Regions from separate parts of the Homo sapiens genome. Here regions 1, 2 and 4 are each reported to be linked to region 3. The links are microRNA targets in miRTarBase. Many come from high-throughput screens and were not tested one by one. Region 3 holds a microRNA gene; each other region holds the end of a gene's coding sequence.

Region 1 (4,201 bases), not on the chromosome of region 3:
TCTTAGGGGGCTCACGTGGTCTCTGCTGTTGATCCCTGGCAGGTGAATAAGGAAGAAGAGACAGATGAGAATGAAACAGAGTGGCTGATGGAAGAGATCCAGCTGCCTCCTCCACGGCAGGGAAAGGAAGGGCAGGAGAACGGCCATATTACCACCAAGTCAGTGAAAGCCCTCAGCTCCCTGCATGGGGATGACCAGGACAGTGAGGATGAGGTTCTGACCATCCCAGAGGTGAAAGTTCACTCGGGCAGGGGAGCTGGGGCAGAGAGCTCCCACCCAGTGAGAAACGCACAGAGCAATGCCCTTCAGGAGCGTGAGGACGATAGGGTGGGGCTGGTCAGGGGTGAGAAGGCGAGGAAAGGGAAGTCCAGCTCTGCACAGCAGAAGACAGTGAGCTCCACCAAGCTGGTGTCCTTCCATGACGACAGCGACGAGGACCTCTTACACATCTGACTCCGCAGTGCCTGCAGGGGAGCACGGAGCCGCGGGACAGCCAAGCACCTCCAACCAAATAAGACTTCCACTCGATGATGCTTCTATAATTTTGCCTTTAACAGAAACTTTCAAAAGGGAAGAGTTTTTGTGATGGGGGAGAGGGTGAAGGAGGTCAGGCCCCACTCCTTCCTGATTGTTTACAGTCATTGGAATAAGGCATGGCTCAGATCGGCCACAGGGCGGTACCTTGTGCCCAGGGTTTTGCCCCAAGTCCTCATTTAAAAGCATAAGGCCGGACGCATCTCAAAACAGAGGGCTGCATTCGAAGAAACCCTTGCTGCTTTAGTCCCGATAGGGTATTTGACCCCGATATATTTTAGCATTTTAATTCTCTCCCCCTATTTATTGACTTTGACAATTACTCAGGTTTGAGAAAAAGGAAAAAAAAACAGCCACCGTTTCTTCCTGCCAGCAGGGGTGTGATGTACCAGTTTGTCCATCTTGAGATGGTGAGGCTGTCAGTGTATGGGGCAGCTTCCGGCGGGATGTTGAACTGGTCATTAATGTGTCCCCTGAGTTGGAGCTCATTCTGTCTCTTTTCTCTTTTGCTTTCTGTTTCTTAAGGGCACACACACGTGCGTGCGAGCACACACACACATACGTGCACAGGGTCCCCGAGTGCCTAGGTTTTGGAGAGTTTGCCTGTTCTATGCCTTTAGTCAGGAATGGCTGCACCTTTTTGCATGATATCTTCAAGCCTGGGCGTACAGAGCACATTTGTCAGTATTTTTGCCGGCTGGTGAATTCAAACAACCTGCCCAAAGATTGATTTGTGTGTTTGTGTGTGTGTGTGTGTGTGTGTGTGTGTGTGTGAGTGGAGTTGAGGTGTCAGAGAAAATGAATTTTTTCCAGATTTGGGGTATAGGTCTCATCTCTTCAGGTTCTCATGATACCACCTTTACTGTGCTTATTTTTTTAAGAAAAAAGTGTTGATCAACCATTCGACCTATAAGAAGCCTTAATTTGCACAGTGTGTGACTTACAGAAACTGCATGAAAAATCATGGGCCAGAGCCTCGGCCCTAGCATTGCACTTGGCCTCATGCTGGAGGGAGGCTGGGCGGGTACAGCGCGGAGGAGGAGGGAGGCCAGGCGGGCATGGCGTGGAGGAGGAGGGAGGCCGGGCGGTCACAGCATGGAGGAGGAGGGAGGCGCTGCTGGTGTTCTTATTCTGGCGGCAGCGCCTTTCCTGCCATGTTTAGTGAATGACTTTTCTCGCATTGTAGAATTGTATATAGACTCTGGTGTTCTATTGCTGAGAAGCAAACCGCCCTGCAGCATCCCTCAGCCTGTACCGGTTTGGCTGGCTTGTTTGATTTCAACATGAGTGTATTTTTTAAAATTGATTTTTCTCTTCATTTTTTTTTCAATCAACTTTACTGTAATATAAAGTATTCAACAATTTCAATAAAAGATAAATTATTAATTGGGTGTTACCATTTTTTCCTTGATAGTGAGACGTTCCCGAGCGAGTTACCCATCTGCCTGCCTGTCTTTTCTTTCTGTTAAGTGACTGAATTTGGGTTTTAACTCTGGTGTTCTCGTTGACCCTTTATGAGGCAGCACTTTCATTTTTCTCCAGAGTCTCCTGGTCGTAGGTGTTAACTTTGGGTCCAATCTGCCTTCCCTTGGCTCTTTCTAGATCCGATTTCTTTACCTTCTCCAGGCCAACCTCGGGGTGTGGTCCTGTTCATCAAAACAATGAACATGGAGTTTAGAGTCCAGTGAGTCAATAAAGCTTTTTTTTGTGCAACCTGATCTAACATGGAGATGTTTTCTCTTGAGTAAACTCACTGAGTTTTCCATCTTAAATTACTCAGCAGTGACTGAGAGCTACCTGCATGGAAGCAGGAAGTTACTCCAGTGTTATAAACAAACTTCTTAGACTCAACATCCTATTCTCCATCCCTTTTTTTTTCCTGTAGAGTCCAAAAACCTCAACCGTCTCATTTTTAAATTATCCAATTGGAGTTACCTTTTTAAAAAAGTTATTCTTAAGGACTTTCCAATACCTCTCCTGAGGAAGACATGTCAGGTCTTCTAAAAGTTTACATTATGACCAAAGAAAGATGCTGGTCCTCAGGCATTCTACCCAGGGGGCTGTTCTCCAGGCCATTCCCACCTCCTGCTAAGACCATGGGGAGCCCTCTCTGTAAGGAGGGGCATATGCAGGGACCTGCCCATCCCCTTGGTAAGCTGGATGGCAAAAAGGCATGTTGTCTGCACCACTGGCTGCCTGCTAATGTCGCTGTCAGTGGGGAAGGAGAAGTGACAACACGTTTGAGTGCATTTGCTTTGACTCTTAGAAACCCAAGCCTCTGAAAAAAGAGTAACTACTTGCCAGCTGTTGTTACAGATGATATTTTTAGGAAAACATCCCGTGACAGCAAATCAGAATTGGACTCTTTTTCAGAGAAATGATTTTATTGATGGAGTACAACCTGGGTATTTAGCTTCCTTTCAACAAAATTTTTTGTGCCCCTTTCTTGAGACTGTCCATGAATGACAGAGACATAGAATAAGAACTGGGGTGCTAAAGATGGAATAGGCAAACCCCACACCAAGGAAATCCACAGTGAAGTGGAAATCTGGTTCTTATGAACATTTTAAGAGCATCTGAAGCCTGTACTTCACCAACCCTAAAATAATACGTAACACGAGATGATTCCTCAGGAAGGAACATATAGACATACAGACAGGAGACAACATATAGACATTAGAACTTACAGGACAAAGAACTCTTTTTCCCTGAATCATTTGAGATGAAGTTTCTTCCCATCACCAGGCATTCCTACAAACAAGGACCTTCACACGACTAAGATGCCACCTGGTGATTAAAGAACACTTTGGGCTGGTCCGATCCATTGTACAAGTTAAAGCACTGATGGGTACACAGGTCTTACCCCTGTTGGCGATCGGGTCACAAGGAGCCAGTGTGTGTGTCACCAGGAGGTTGTATGGACGAGACTGGATTTCTGGAAATATCCTTTACTGACTCTGAAGAATCCCATGGCTCAGGGAGGTACACTCATGTCCTTTCTTACTTCTCCGGTTCCACTCTGTTGACTAGTAGTTGGCCTCTTGAGCCATACTTGCTGTCAGTTCTGGACATTGTTCTGTGAGAATGGGGTCAACGGGCAGTCGTGGTGCAGGTGAGCTTGTGTGCAAGGCGGCAAGATAGCCACATTGAGTTGGGGACAGTATGGCCTGGGGGTGTTGGATAGGTAAGGCAGAAGCAAGCCCAGAACTTGGAGCCTGTTGTGACTGTCACAGTAAGGAGTTTGAAGTCCTGAAAGCAGTTGAGAGCTGTAGGAGGGCCAGATTGGGCTTTTGAGCAAGATAGTCTAGATGAAAGTAAAGAGATGGAGACGCTTCAGCAACCAGATGGGAGGTTGGGCATGGGAGCTGTGGCTGTGCTGAGCTGAGAAGCCTCAGACTGCCTGCGAGGCTCTCTCTGGGAGGAAGTCAGGTCTTTCTTTCCTTCGTTTCCTTCCTTTCATTCCTTTCCTTTCCTTCCTTTTTCCTCTTTCTTTCTTTCCTTTTCTCTCTCTCTCTTTTTCTTTCTCTCTTTCTTTCGAGATGGAGTCTCGCTCTGTTGCCAGGCTGGAGTGCAGTGGCATGATCTCGGCTCACTGCAATCTCTGCCTCCCGGGTTCAAGGGATTCTCCTGCCTCAGCCTCCCTAGTAGCTGGGATTAAAGGCACGCA
Region 2 (4,000 bases), not on the chromosome of region 3:
TTTTATTTCTCGAGTTTGAGTGAAAGGAGCGACCCGGAGGTGAGGCAGTGGGGCGTGTGGGTGCGCATGAGTGCGAACACACGTGGGGGTGCAAGTGCATGTGTGTATGTGCACGCAGGTTGCTCCTAGGGGTGCAAAGGCGCGCGCACGGGTGCGGGGTGCGCGCCCCCTCGCGGCGCCTTCACGGCCCTCCCGCCCCTCGCCCTGCAGAGTACAGCGGCCGCCGGCAGCCCTACCCCTTCGAGCGCATGATCTTCGGCGCCTGCGCTGGCCTCATCGGGCAGTCGGCCTCGTACCCGCTGGATGTGGTGCGGCGGCGCATGCAGACGGCCGGCGTCACGGGCTACCCGCGCGCCTCCATCGCCCGCACGCTGCGCACCATCGTGCGGGAGGAGGGCGCCGTGCGCGGCCTCTACAAAGGCTTGAGCATGAACTGGGTCAAGGGTCCCATCGCCGTGGGCATCAGCTTCACCACCTTCGACCTCATGCAGATCCTGCTGCGGCACCTGCAGAGCTAGGGGACCCTGAGCTGCTCTCAGGACGGTGGACCGGTGACCCCTTTGTATTCTGGGCCCATGGAACGGTGGGGGGGTGCGCTTGATTCTACTTCAGGAGGCACATGGGGCGCTTTATGGAACGAGCAGGTGGGCCTGAGGGGCCTGGGCTCAGAGTCCACGTCCAAACGCAAAGCTGGCAGCCCTGGAAGTGCAGTGTTGGGGCGATGGTGTGGGGGGTCCCGCAGCTCCCCTCTTCCTTCCTCTGCAGACGCTGGCGCTGTCTGCCGGAGGTGTTGCCCAAAAGGCCCTAGTGGGGCGTGGTCAGCTCCACCTCCTGATCCTGTGTGTCCTCCGACATGCTGCTGATTCTAGTGACCCCTGTCCCCACCAGGCTCAGAGCCAGACCGCGCCTGGACCTTCTTGTTCTGACTCCACGTGCCTGCCCGGCCTCCAGGGTGCGGGGGCGCCTTTCTTGCAGGCGGACCCTGCCCAGGATGGGGCCAGCCTCGTGCTCAGCTTTGGCCACAAATGCAGCCCCTGGCCCACCCCACCCTGCCGGCCCTGCCTTCTCCAGTATTTCCCACATGGCCACGACTCCTCAGTCACTAGAGCCTCCTGCTGGGAACAGTGTCCCCCAGAGCCTCATGTCTATCCTAGACCCTGCAAGCAGCTGGGTCCCCAAGAGTGCATCTCCCCCTAGAGTTGCCTGCCCATGCCCACCTGCTTTGTAACCTTCCCAGGAGATTCATGCTTGCTCTGCACAGCAGGGCTCGAGGCCCAGGCCATGACACGGAACTGCCTCAGGTTTGGGTCAGACCTGCATCCTGGGGCATCTGCTGAAATGTGAGCACACAAACCACCTCCTTTGGCCCAGAAGCCCCCCAGGCCTAGCATCTCAGTGCCCCAACCCTCTGCCCAGCTGTGGTATCCAGCAGGTCCTTGGGTCCCCACTTGAGCAGGCACTTGGCTGGGATATGGAGCAATTTAAAGCCCACAGGGGTTGTTCAGTTTCTATGAAATGGAGCATGGGGTGCCTGCTAGCCTCAATCCCCCGAAGTGGGAGCCTCATGATAGAGTATAGCTTGGGGGTGGGAGGTGAGGAAAATCTGAGGTACCCAGGGGAACCCCCAGCTAACTGGTCTCTCAGAGGAGTCCCCCAGGGCCCGCCAGCTATCACAGGGACTCAGAAACACCCATTTCCTAATGACATGGTGAGTTTCTTGATTTCTTTTTTTTGTTTGTTTTGTTTTGGTTTTCAACTTGGCTGACCCCGGGTCTATGATCTATTCACATCGAACCCCTGACTGGTCTGCCTGGTGCCAGGGTGAGCGTGACCGTGAGTGTTGCTTTCGACAGCTGGCTCAGCACACGCTGTGTGAAGGGATCTGAGCTTGTTCATCTCCAGTCGTGACTTCATTTCCCTTCCTTCTGTCCTCCTCCTGTTCTTGCCTTGGACCTGCAGGTGTGCAGACCGCTCTCTCTGCCTTCCTTGCATGTGGCCACCAGCCATCCCTGATCTTGTCCCCAGAGGCCCAGGCAGCCTGTGATGGCTGTGAGGGGCTGTCCCACTGTGTGGGTATCCCTTACCCAGCACTTAAACTTGGCAGGAGAGGCAGGGCAACCCTCACAGGGAGATGGGAGGGCACCCAACTCCCACAAGCATGCAACAGCAGTAGGAATTGGGGGTCTGCCCCAGGTGGGTGAGACCAAATGAGTGGATTTGGGGCCACAGGCTAGGCAGGAGAGACAAGGGGTAGGTGGGAGGGTCCCCCAGTCCCTGCTGACCCCAGTGTGTCTCCCCGGAGATGGCTCCTAGCTGAGTGGGACCCGGCAGGAGTTGGGGACAGTGCTGTCCCCCACCCCTGCACACAGCCAGGCCCTCAGGCTCTGCGGTCACTCGCCTCCCTGCTGGTCACTGGTCTTGGTCTGGAGTTATATTTTGATGCCATGAAGACACTGTTTATATCTAATGTTTATATATTTTAAAGATTTGTGCCAAGAGAGTATATTTAATAAAAACTTAAATGACTTCTTCTCCTGCTCCTGGCTCTTCTTTGGCTCTGACCGCCCCCCCATCTTCCCCCATGAACCCCCAAACAGGGTTGAAGTGCTTTTGACACATTTGTGATAAAAGTTCTGAATAAAAGTCTTGAATAAAGAAGTTTTTAAATGCAATTGTTGTTTGAATTAATACATACCACAATTTTCCAGAAAACACCAGCTGTCCACAAGGGTTTACAGTGAAAAGTAGGTGAACAGTTCCCTCTGCAGGGGGCCTCCTGTGACCATTTTCTCTTGTCTCCTCCCACAGAGATTCTGTGCATACACTCATCCCTTTCAGGATATATGTGGCCACCCACAAAGGCAGGAGGGGCCGTCTCTGTGCAGCCAGCACAGCCCAAAGTCTCATGGGCTTGAACATGGCCTTCCTTCCCAAGAGCCCTGCACTCTGGGGCTGGCTGAGGCTTCAGGCCTGAACGTCAGTCACCATCTGCAGGGGCAGCCACCAGAGGGTCTCCAGTGGCAATCCTGGCTCACTTCACCTGCAGCCCATTGGCCAGAGCAACTTGGAGGACCCACCCACTGCCAGGCCAGAAGTGGGAGCCTCTGCGTGCCCAGAGAGGAGGGGCGGCTGGGCCAGCACAGGCCTGGTGCTCTTGTTGGGGTGGGAGTAGGAATAAGTTCCACTGCGCTGACCCCCCACTGCTCTCCAATCTGCTCACGTGCAACAGGATTTCTTTTGAGTTGGTCTCCGTTGTGCACATTGTTCAGCAGCTGTGCGGTTTTCTCCTAGAGGATCCCCAGGATGACATTTACCAGGGTGGGTGTGGTGGCTCATGCCTGTAATCCCAGCACTTTGGAGACTGAGGCAGGTGGCTTGCTTGAGCCCAGGAGTTTGAGACCAGCCTAGGCAACACAGTAAGACCCCCCATCTCTACAAAAAAATAGAAAAATTAGGCCGGATGCAGTGGCTCACGCCTTTAATCCCATCACTTTGGGAGGCCAGGGCAGGTGGATCACTTGAGGTCAGGAGTTCAAGACCAGCCTGGCCAACATGCTGAAACCCCCATCTCTATTAAAAGTACAAAAATCCTAGCTACTCAGGAGGCTGAGGCAGGAGAATTGCTTGAACCTGGGAGGCGGAGGTTGCAGTGAGCCGCTGCACTCCAGCCTGAGTGACTGAGAAGTCTCCGTCTCAAAAAAAAATTTTTTTTTAATTAGCCAGTCTTGGAGGTGCGTGCCTGTAGTCCCAGCCACTCAGAAATTCACGCCTCCCTTATGTTACCAAACCAGGCTCGTTCTGCCCAGCAGTATGCCAACAGAGATGACAGGTTTTGCAGCAAAGAGTTTATTCACGAGGCAGCCGAGTGAGGAGACAGGAGAACAGATCTCAAATCCGCCTCCCTGAAGATGGGATTTTAGGAATATTTAAGGGATAGAGGAGCAAGGTGGTCAGAGACGTGGGGAAAAGTGGGGCAGTCGGGGAACCGTGCGTGCGTAGT
Region 3 (4,221 bases):
CTGCCACACTATTATTCATCTTGAATAAAATAAAAGACAATCAAGAGAGATTAAGAGATTGCTATAAGGCAGATGACAATAAGGCCAGAAGAGAAAGCATCTGAAATGTTCTGACCCATAAATTACGAATGTTTGCTACCGGCAGGAATACTTAAAAGAAATGAACACTCAGTTTTTGCCCTTTAAAGGCACTCATTGTCAAGATATGGGGTGTTTTGTAGACTAGAACAATAGAGCAACCTCCACCCAACCTCTCCTTTCACCCCAGTCATCACAACTCAGGGCCTCATCAAATAAAAATTCCTTTTTTCTAATTGGATGCCACTTTTCTACTCTAGGCAGCAACTTGTTCATACAAAATGTAACATAAGCCAAAATTTAAAATTGGTAGAAATATGCAAATTTTGAGTTCAATTTACGGTGAAAAATAGTCTTACAAGCAGTCATGTGGATGTAGTGTGTGCAATGATAATAAGAAATGAGGGAGACCACAAGGCTATTGATTAGGGTTTCACAAATGACTCATTAGAGCCCTATTCCTTCACCAGATTGAAATATAATGTTTAGAAGGCATCAGGAAACTTCAAAGGCAGGAGTATTTTGGCTTTACCAATGACTAACAGCCAGAAACACTAGACTATACCATTTCTTTTTTTTTGTTATTTTTAGTAGAGACGGGGATTCACCGTGTTAGCCAGGATGGTCTCGATCTCCTGACCTTGTGATCCGCCCACCTCGGCCTCCCAAAGTGCTGGGATTACAGGCGTGAGCCACTGCACCCAGCCTAGACTATACCGTTTCTTATCCTTCAATCCCCAGTAACCAGACCAGATGAAGTTGTTTATTTGGTAACTTACCCACCCATGATAAGTGACAACTATGAGCTAAGTGCTGGCACAGGTAGTTATGAAGACCTAGGCAGTCCACCCCTTCACAAAGGTGGATCTAAGCATGACTCCAAGGCATGGAGCCCACTGGCCAGATTTTCCTTACCTCCCCTTCCACTGACCATCCTTGTTTCTTTCAACTAGTGAGTTCTGTGCTAGCTTCAGGCTCTAGGCATGCCCTTCTCTTCTGTCCATACCAAGGAATTGTGGATGGAAAGTGACCTGGTGATAAAAACCCATCTTCCTTAAAGTACCCTCCCTGCTTCCAAACCCCCAGCTTTTTTCAACTCAAACAATGCCCAGATTTAAAAAAAAAAAAAAAAAAGGCTGTTGATGGAATGCATGATTACAGAACAAATGAAAAGTGAGTTAAAAGAGTTGTGGGGGAACACTTAGTCTGGCAGCTGTATGATCTCACACTTTTGTGGCTGTGACTTTTGTAATTGTGGTATTCTTAAGTATAAAATACAGGAAATATTGATATTGAGGTTTTTTTTTTTTTTTTTGGAGACGGAGTCTCGCTCTGTCGCCCAGGCTGGATTGCAGTGGCACGATCTCAGCTCACTGCAAGCTCCGTCTCCCAGGTTCACGCCATTCTCCTGCCTCAGCCTCCCGAGTAGCTGGGACTGCAGGCGCCTGCCACCACGCCTGGCTAATTTTTTGTATTTTTAGTGGAGACGGGGTTTCACCATGTTAGTCAGGATGGTCTCGATCTCCTGACCTCATGATCCGCCTGCCTCGGTCTCCCAAAGTGCTGGGATTACAGGCATGAGCCACCACGCCCAGCCTAAGCTGTATTTTTTTTAATGTGTTCAGTAGCTGTTAAAATAAGATTTTGTACATCCAACAGGTAAAATATTTTGTTACTGTTCAGTATCTTGCAAAAAATATTTTTTAGACTTTTTGTCAGGCTTATTATGACATGCTTAATAAATTAGGCATAGCCATTACATAACAATTTCACCTTTATGCATTTATATGAATTTATCTTCATTTCTTAGACAAGATTTATCTACTTATAACTGCACTTTCACTCATTTGAGTAACAGAGGTTGGTTGTAGAATGTAATCAATTATAGATTCCCTTCCAAGTCATCAGTCATGCTAATAAAATGAAGACAATCATTTTAAGAATTATTTTCAAGTGTTAGCAGAGAGCTACAAATTTACAGCATGACCATTGACCCAGTGACTCATCTCCATTACAGTTATGGGTGAACTTGCAATTTGGAAATAGAAAATGTTACCTCTGTTACCAGCATGTCCAAGCCATCACCCCATTTTATCCTGGGAGTGTTCATGTATCAGATTTTCTTCCTTCTGATTAGGCAGCAGGAATTTATTGGGTGTTTAATGTGTCTAAGCCATGCAATAGGTTTTGTAGAGGATTCAATAGAGGTTAAAAAGACATCAAGAGCAAAGATATGCTCTCTGCCCCCTTTTCACGCATTTGTGTTTTACCACCTCCAGGAGACTGCCCAAAGACTCTTCAGTATCATGGAGTTGGTAAAGCACAGATGCATGAATAATTCAACGTGTAAGCTATCTAAAGAAGCACCTTGATTAGAGGAATCAATGAGAGGAGAACATTTAAAAACAGATGTGCTTACTTATGCCTTCCAGTGTTTGCATTGTTTTTCTTGTATTTTGCTTGTGTTATTCATTAGAAGGAATTAGAGGTTCCTCCCACACAGCATAAATGTTCTCACTGCATGACCTTGAAATAATCAAGCTTTGTTTATACTGCAGAAACTGATATTGGTACACATTTAGCTCAAAACAATTTTAACTTTACCACAATCAGAAGGAAAACATTATGAAAACAGTCAAGTAAACATAGGACAGTGGTTCTCTTAATGTATACAAGGATTATCTATCTGAGATTAGTTTACAAATGACTTTAGACATTCTGACTCAATAGAACACTCCACCCTCAGACATTCTTACTCAACAGAAGAAGTCACTTTGATTCGGTAGGTTTGGGATGAGCCTTGAAAAATCTGAATTTTAAGGTTCATTCTAAGTGACTGAGATGCAGGAAGCCCAAAAGCATCCTCTGGGATGTTGTGCTACAGAACCTAATGAATGTCACAGAGATGCTAGCTTTGTGCTGTTTTTCAAAGAGCTGAACAAAATAGCATTATGTCAGTCCTGGATGTTCTTATTAAAAAACTTGGTTTAGGTAACTGCTGATATCAGTTTAAACTGACAAACCAAATTCTTACACTCGTAGAGTAATATTCTTAGGCATTCCTTTAAGTTTCTTTCATTATATGAGCCGGAGTCCAGCTACAGTTCGCCAAACAATAACGAACTGTCTCACGATCCTTCTGTCTTCTGTATTTCTAGGTCGTCCCTAAGAAAGCATCAACAACTGAGTGGTTTAAACACAATGATTTGGCCAGGCGCGGTGGCTGACGCCTGTAATCCCAGCACTTAGGGAGGCCGAGGTGGGTGGATCATGAGGTCAGGGGTTCGAGACCAGCCTGACCAACATGGTGAAACCCCATCTCTACTAAAAATACAAAAATTAGCTGGGCGTGGTGGTGGGCACCTGTAATCCCAGCTACTCAGGAGGCTGAGGAAGGAGAATTGCTTGAACCTGGGAGGCGGAGGTTGCAGTGAGGCGAGATGGCACCACTGCATTCCAGCCTGGGCGACAGAGCGAGACTCTGTCTCAAAAAAACAAAAACAAAAACAAAAAAAACCACAAGATTTATTCTCTAACAGTTCTGGAATCTGAGTCCAAAATCAAGGTTTCTGCAGAACCATGCTCCCTCCAGAGTCTGTATTTGCCTCTTCCTAGTTTCTGCAAGTGGCCATTGGTCTTTGGCAATCCTTGATATTCTTTGTCTCGTAAATCATCACCCCAATTTCTGCCTTCATCTTCTCATGGTGTTCTTTTTGCATAAGTGTGTTTTCTCTGTGTCTAAATTTCCCATTTTTATAAGAACACCAGTTATATGGCAATAGAGCCCACCCTGATGACCTCATTTCAACCCACTTACCTTTGTGAAGAACCTGTTTTCAAATAAGCTTACAGTCTGAGAAAATGGAGTTTAAAACTTCAACTTATCATTTTTTAGGGAGTGGGCACAATTCAATCCAGAACATTTCCCTTCCCCTTAATTCTGTTGTTGGATATATTTAAGCACTCAGAAAAATTTAGGTACAGGAATAGAAAAGTTGATTGTGGTTCTGGTGACGGTGATGTGTGGATACATCTGGCTGACTTCTTATAAAAGTATAAAATTACCAATTATTTTTTCTTTATGGAGTGACACTTTTCAGTTGTGCCCATGAAAAATGTTTGGACTGGACTGTGTTAAATGAA
Region 4 (4,221 bases), not on the chromosome of region 3:
ACAATAACTGTTTTTGATATGGCACTTTTATCAGATGCTAAATTTCTATATATATTGGGGTTATTTCTAGTCTTCTGTTTCATTGATATATCTGTCATTCGTGTGCCAATACCATGCTGTCTTAATTTGTTTATAGATTTGTAAGTATGCTAATTTCTGATAAGGTATCTTTGATATGTTTTCTTTAGGTGCTGTTTTGTCATGGGTCTGTCTATTATGCAAATAATTAAAGTATTTTTACTTTATTTAGTGACAGATTTAACCATATTATATTTTTCTTTATTAAAATTTTTCATGGAAATTAGGATGAAGTAATGGATTATGGGTACACTGTAATTTACCTAATTATATCTAGTGTGGTATATTTAGTTGCTTCCTATTTTATTATTATAACTAATGCTACAAAGGTTATCTTAGTCATAAAACTCCTACTATGTTTAGGATTATTTACTTAATGTAACAGCATAGAAGTGAAATTTTTGGGTCAGTGATTGTGAACATATTTAAAGCTCAATATTTATTGCCACGTTGCTTTTCAAACAGATCATATTGGTTTAGACTGCTATATATACACACACATATATATATAAATGTTGTATTACAGTTTTATTTTTACTTTATTTTTATTACCTTTTTAGGTTTCTTGTGATCAGCCCTTACTGAAAGAAGGATATAAAAGTGCCCAAAAGCGGGCCCCTCAAGGGGAGGCAACCACAGTCTCTGAATATTTCTTCAATGATATCTTCATTGAAGTGGATGAAACAGAATAAAACAATCTTTTCTCTTTTTCTTTTTTAAATTAGGTCTAGGATTTCCAGAGTCAATTACATCAACAAAACAGTATTTAGAGCAAAATATCACTGTCTTATTTTTCTTTAGGTTGATTTTGAATACTTAATGAGCTTGATTTGAAGCTTTTATAATCAGTGGAAAACATTTCTGAGGTTCCTTTCATTCTGACTGATTCAGCATTTTGCAAATAGCAAGCAATTAAGACTGCTTTCTCAGACAGAAATAACAACTCTTGTTTACATTTTGACTCTTCCTGTGCTAAGCACACATGGACATTTGGGAATGTTGTGGATATATGTCTCTGTATGAATTGCAGTGCAGACAGATTTGGGGGTTAATTGTATCATATTTAACATTTAGCAACTTCTTTTGTGAAGATTTTTTATTTTTAGGGGGAGATGATGAAGGATGAAGGCTTTTTCATTTGCTTCTAAGTACAGTCATGTATCACATAATGAAGTTTAAGTCAATGATGGACCACATATATTACAGTGGTCCCATGCAATTAAAATGGAGATAAATTCCTATCAACTAGTGACATTATAGCCATCATAACACAGTGCATTGCTTTTTTATGTTTAGATATGTTTAGATACACAAATACTTACTATTGTGTTACAACTGCCTACAGTATTCAGCATAGTAACACATTGTAGAGGTTTGTAGCCGAGGAGCAATAGGCTATACCACATAGCCTCAGTCTGTACGGTGTGTAGCAGCCTGTACCATCTCAGTGTTTGTAAGTACACTCTGCGTTGTTTCACACAAGATCACCTAACAAGGCAATTCTTAGAACATGTAGTTAAGGGACACGTGACTATATGTGAAAACAAATTGTCAAACTTCACTTTAGTATGGCAAATGTTAAAGAACTTTTCTATTATCAGCTGTTTGTCTGACTGAAAAATACATATTTTTCTAATTCATGGTGATGTAACATTAGTCCTAATTGAAAAACTAGTATTTAAACATAATTATTTATAAAGATGACACATCAAAGGGCTTATTTATTTTTAAATTTTTTATTTAAAAGGATATTCAGTTTTAGCTATTTTTACCCCTCAGATTGTAGATAAAGAAGGCATTAAATTTATGTTTGTCTCCTTTTTCTGTTTAATTTTAAAGATATTTAAAATGATATAACTAAAAATGTTTAGCTGGTGTATATGTTTTGAATACCTTTTTCCCCTCAGTTTAGTATATTGACTTTGTACTGTAAATTTTTCTGCTTTTCTTGGATAATCTCAGGATTTTCATGAGGATAGGGGGAACTCAACTTTATTTATGAGACAAAATTTCCATACAAAGCTCAATCTCCTTTATACACCCACAGACATAATATTAGTTTTTAAAAAGCCAATTTCTTCATAGTTTTTTCCCATTAAATTCTCAAGGAACACTTGGATCTTTAAGCACGGAACATAATCATGATGTTAAAAACAGAGAAAATAAGGCTTTATAAAGTTAATGATTATCATCAGTATGAATTTAAGGTTTGTTTTAATTTCAAGATTTGATTTTTTATACGTGTAATTCTATTATCTACCCAAGCAGATCTGTAGTGGTTCCAATTAGACTTCTCAAACAGCAAATTTATCCTGATTTTATTTGAAAAGCCTCTTGGATTGATAGTATAGTAGCTCAGGCATTGGAAACTTTCTGCAAACTGTTTTGGGTTTGCAGGCCAGATGGTCTCTGTGGCAGCTACTCAGCTCTGCAATTTCAGTGTGAAAGAAGCCATAGACAGTACTTGAATGAAGGACTGTGGCTGGATTGGCCTTTTAGTTTGACCCCCTACATTAGGCCCCAAATTTTCTTACCCTGAGGTGCTGATATCTGTATGGATGAGTTATTTGTCACTAAAGTTATGAGTTGTGCCTAAAAGTTAAAACTGTTGACTGTATTATGTAATGATCAGTATTTCAGTTGGGAAGATATTTTAGAGTCTAGATAATTATGTTTGTATATTGAAAAAATGGTGGCCAGTTTTTAAGTTCCTTAATAGAAGAGAATTATGTCTCAGCACATATAACAGTAATGCTAATTTATTGAAACTACTGCTGTTAGAGCACTTCTTATTCATTGTCTTTTAGTGAAATTTATGGCGTAACACTTTGTCAGAGAGGAGGCTATATAATTCGGAGCGGAAATTGTCTATAAGTAGGCATTTATTTCATGATTGATATGTCACAGAAATCATGGTAGTAAATCACATTGCTATTTGAATACCCTGTTTTTGTAAGTTTTTAAAACTCATATTCTGAAAAGATTTCATTCTCTTAGTGTTAGCTTGGGAGTTAGATTGCCATGATTAAACTATTATTTATCCTTGTGTAATATTAGTTTTTAACTTTAACATCTGTTTCTTTTTAATCTATAATGAGCTAGTTTTATGGAAAATGGAATTTCTTACTATATAAAGAATACAGAGACTCATTGTATTAGAGAATCAAGTCAGCCAGCTAAAGTATCCTACTGTTAAATCCTTAAACCTAATTTTGGAAAAGAGAAAGTTAATCAATGTATTTACCTTACATGTTGGAAAGAACTATGTTAGGTCTGATTCATGTGAAGAAGATGTTGCAAAGGATTTATTTCACAAATTTTAAAGGAGATATGAGTAAAAGTTTTTATCTTTTCTTGACTTTTTCTCCTGAACACTTATGTCTTAGCAAGTGGTCAACATGAGGATTTGAACGCCTAATTGTTGGTAAATGGTTGAGGCATGACAAAAATATTAATATCCACTGTTTACCATCATGTTATTTGAAACAAAAGTGACCATGTATACTATCTTGCTTGAAGAAGTCTTTGACAGAAAAAGCAATATCATGTCATTTATAAATTTTCTTGTTCTAAAGAAAGCAGTTATATATATATATAAATTATGTAAATAAAAGTTATTTTATATCATTTCTGTTGTGTCCTTTTAAGATGACTAAATAAAGAATTGGCTGGGTATCGTGGCTTACACCTGTAATCCCAGCACTTTCGGAGGCCGAGGTGGGAGGATTGCTTGAGCCCAGGAGTTCAAGACCAGCCTGGGCAACATAATGAGACCTCATCTCTACAAAAAAATTAAAAATCAGCCAACTGTGGTGGTGTGTGCTTTTGGTCCCAGTTACTCAGGAGGCTGGGATGAGAGGTTCGCTTGAGCCCAGGAGGAGGTTGAGGCTGCAGTGAGCTGTGATTGCCCCACCACACTCCAGCCTGGATGACAGAAGAAGACCCTGTCTTTGTGGGGAGGAGACAAATTTTTGACAGGTGTGCATGTCGTTATTTCAAAGCTGTAGGAGTCTGCAATGTGATTGTCCTAATAGTATTTGGAAGAGACTCCACACAGCATCTCTGTTTGCTGCAGCATCGCATCCTGAATCTGCTGGAGAGCCCTGTCTTACATTGGGTTTCACTAAAAATCGGCAGTCTTAC

The links. The annotated mature microRNA hsa-miR-2681-3p reads UAUCAUGGAGUUGGUAAAGCAC and lies in region 3 at 2,381-2,402, shown strand. An mRNA with a match to its seed (bases 2 to 7 or 8) in the 3' UTR can be bound and repressed. Matches are read on the target gene's strand: a 7mer-m8 pairs with bases 2 to 8, a 7mer-A1 pairs with bases 2 to 7 and ends in A, and an 8mer does both.
Region 1: miRTarBase lists IGF2R as a target of hsa-miR-2681-3p. Seed matches in the 3' UTR shown: 7mer-A1 at 1,178-1,184 and 7mer-A1 at 1,381-1,387.
Region 2: the mRNA of SLC25A42 is a reported target of hsa-miR-2681-3p. Seed matches in the 3' UTR shown: 7mer-A1 at 1,564-1,570.
Region 4: miRTarBase lists BDP1 as a target of hsa-miR-2681-3p. Seed matches in the 3' UTR shown: 7mer-m8 at 3,098-3,104.

The regions. Positions count from the first base shown.
Region 1 is chr6:160,104,632-160,108,832 of GRCh38, forward strand. IGF2R (insulin like growth factor 2 receptor) reads left to right here. Exons shown (of 48, transcript NM_000876.4): 48 at 43-4,201. The coding sequence ends at 453. Among named protein-coding and RNA genes, the nearest start is that of SLC22A1, 15 kb to the right of the region's middle.
Region 2 is chr19:19,110,359-19,114,358 of GRCh38, forward strand. It overlaps SLC25A42 (solute carrier family 25 member 42), which reads left to right. Exons shown (of 8, transcript NM_178526.5): 8 at 211-2,672. The coding sequence ends at 518. Among named protein-coding and RNA genes, the nearest start is that of TMEM161A, 26 kb to the right of the region's middle. RefSeq lists a silencer at 73-262 and an enhancer at 2,602-2,896.
Region 3 is chr13:101,965,846-101,970,066 of GRCh38, reverse strand. It overlaps MIR2681 (microRNA 2681), which reads left to right and starts at 2,321; the gene lies at 2,321-2,425. It also overlaps a transcript of FGF14 not described here.
Region 4 is chr5:71,564,116-71,568,336 of GRCh38, forward strand. BDP1 (BDP1 general transcription factor IIIB subunit) reads left to right here. Exons shown (of 39, transcript NM_018429.3): 39 at 639-3,705. The coding sequence ends at 770. Among named protein-coding and RNA genes, the nearest start is that of MCCC2, 21 kb to the right of the region's middle.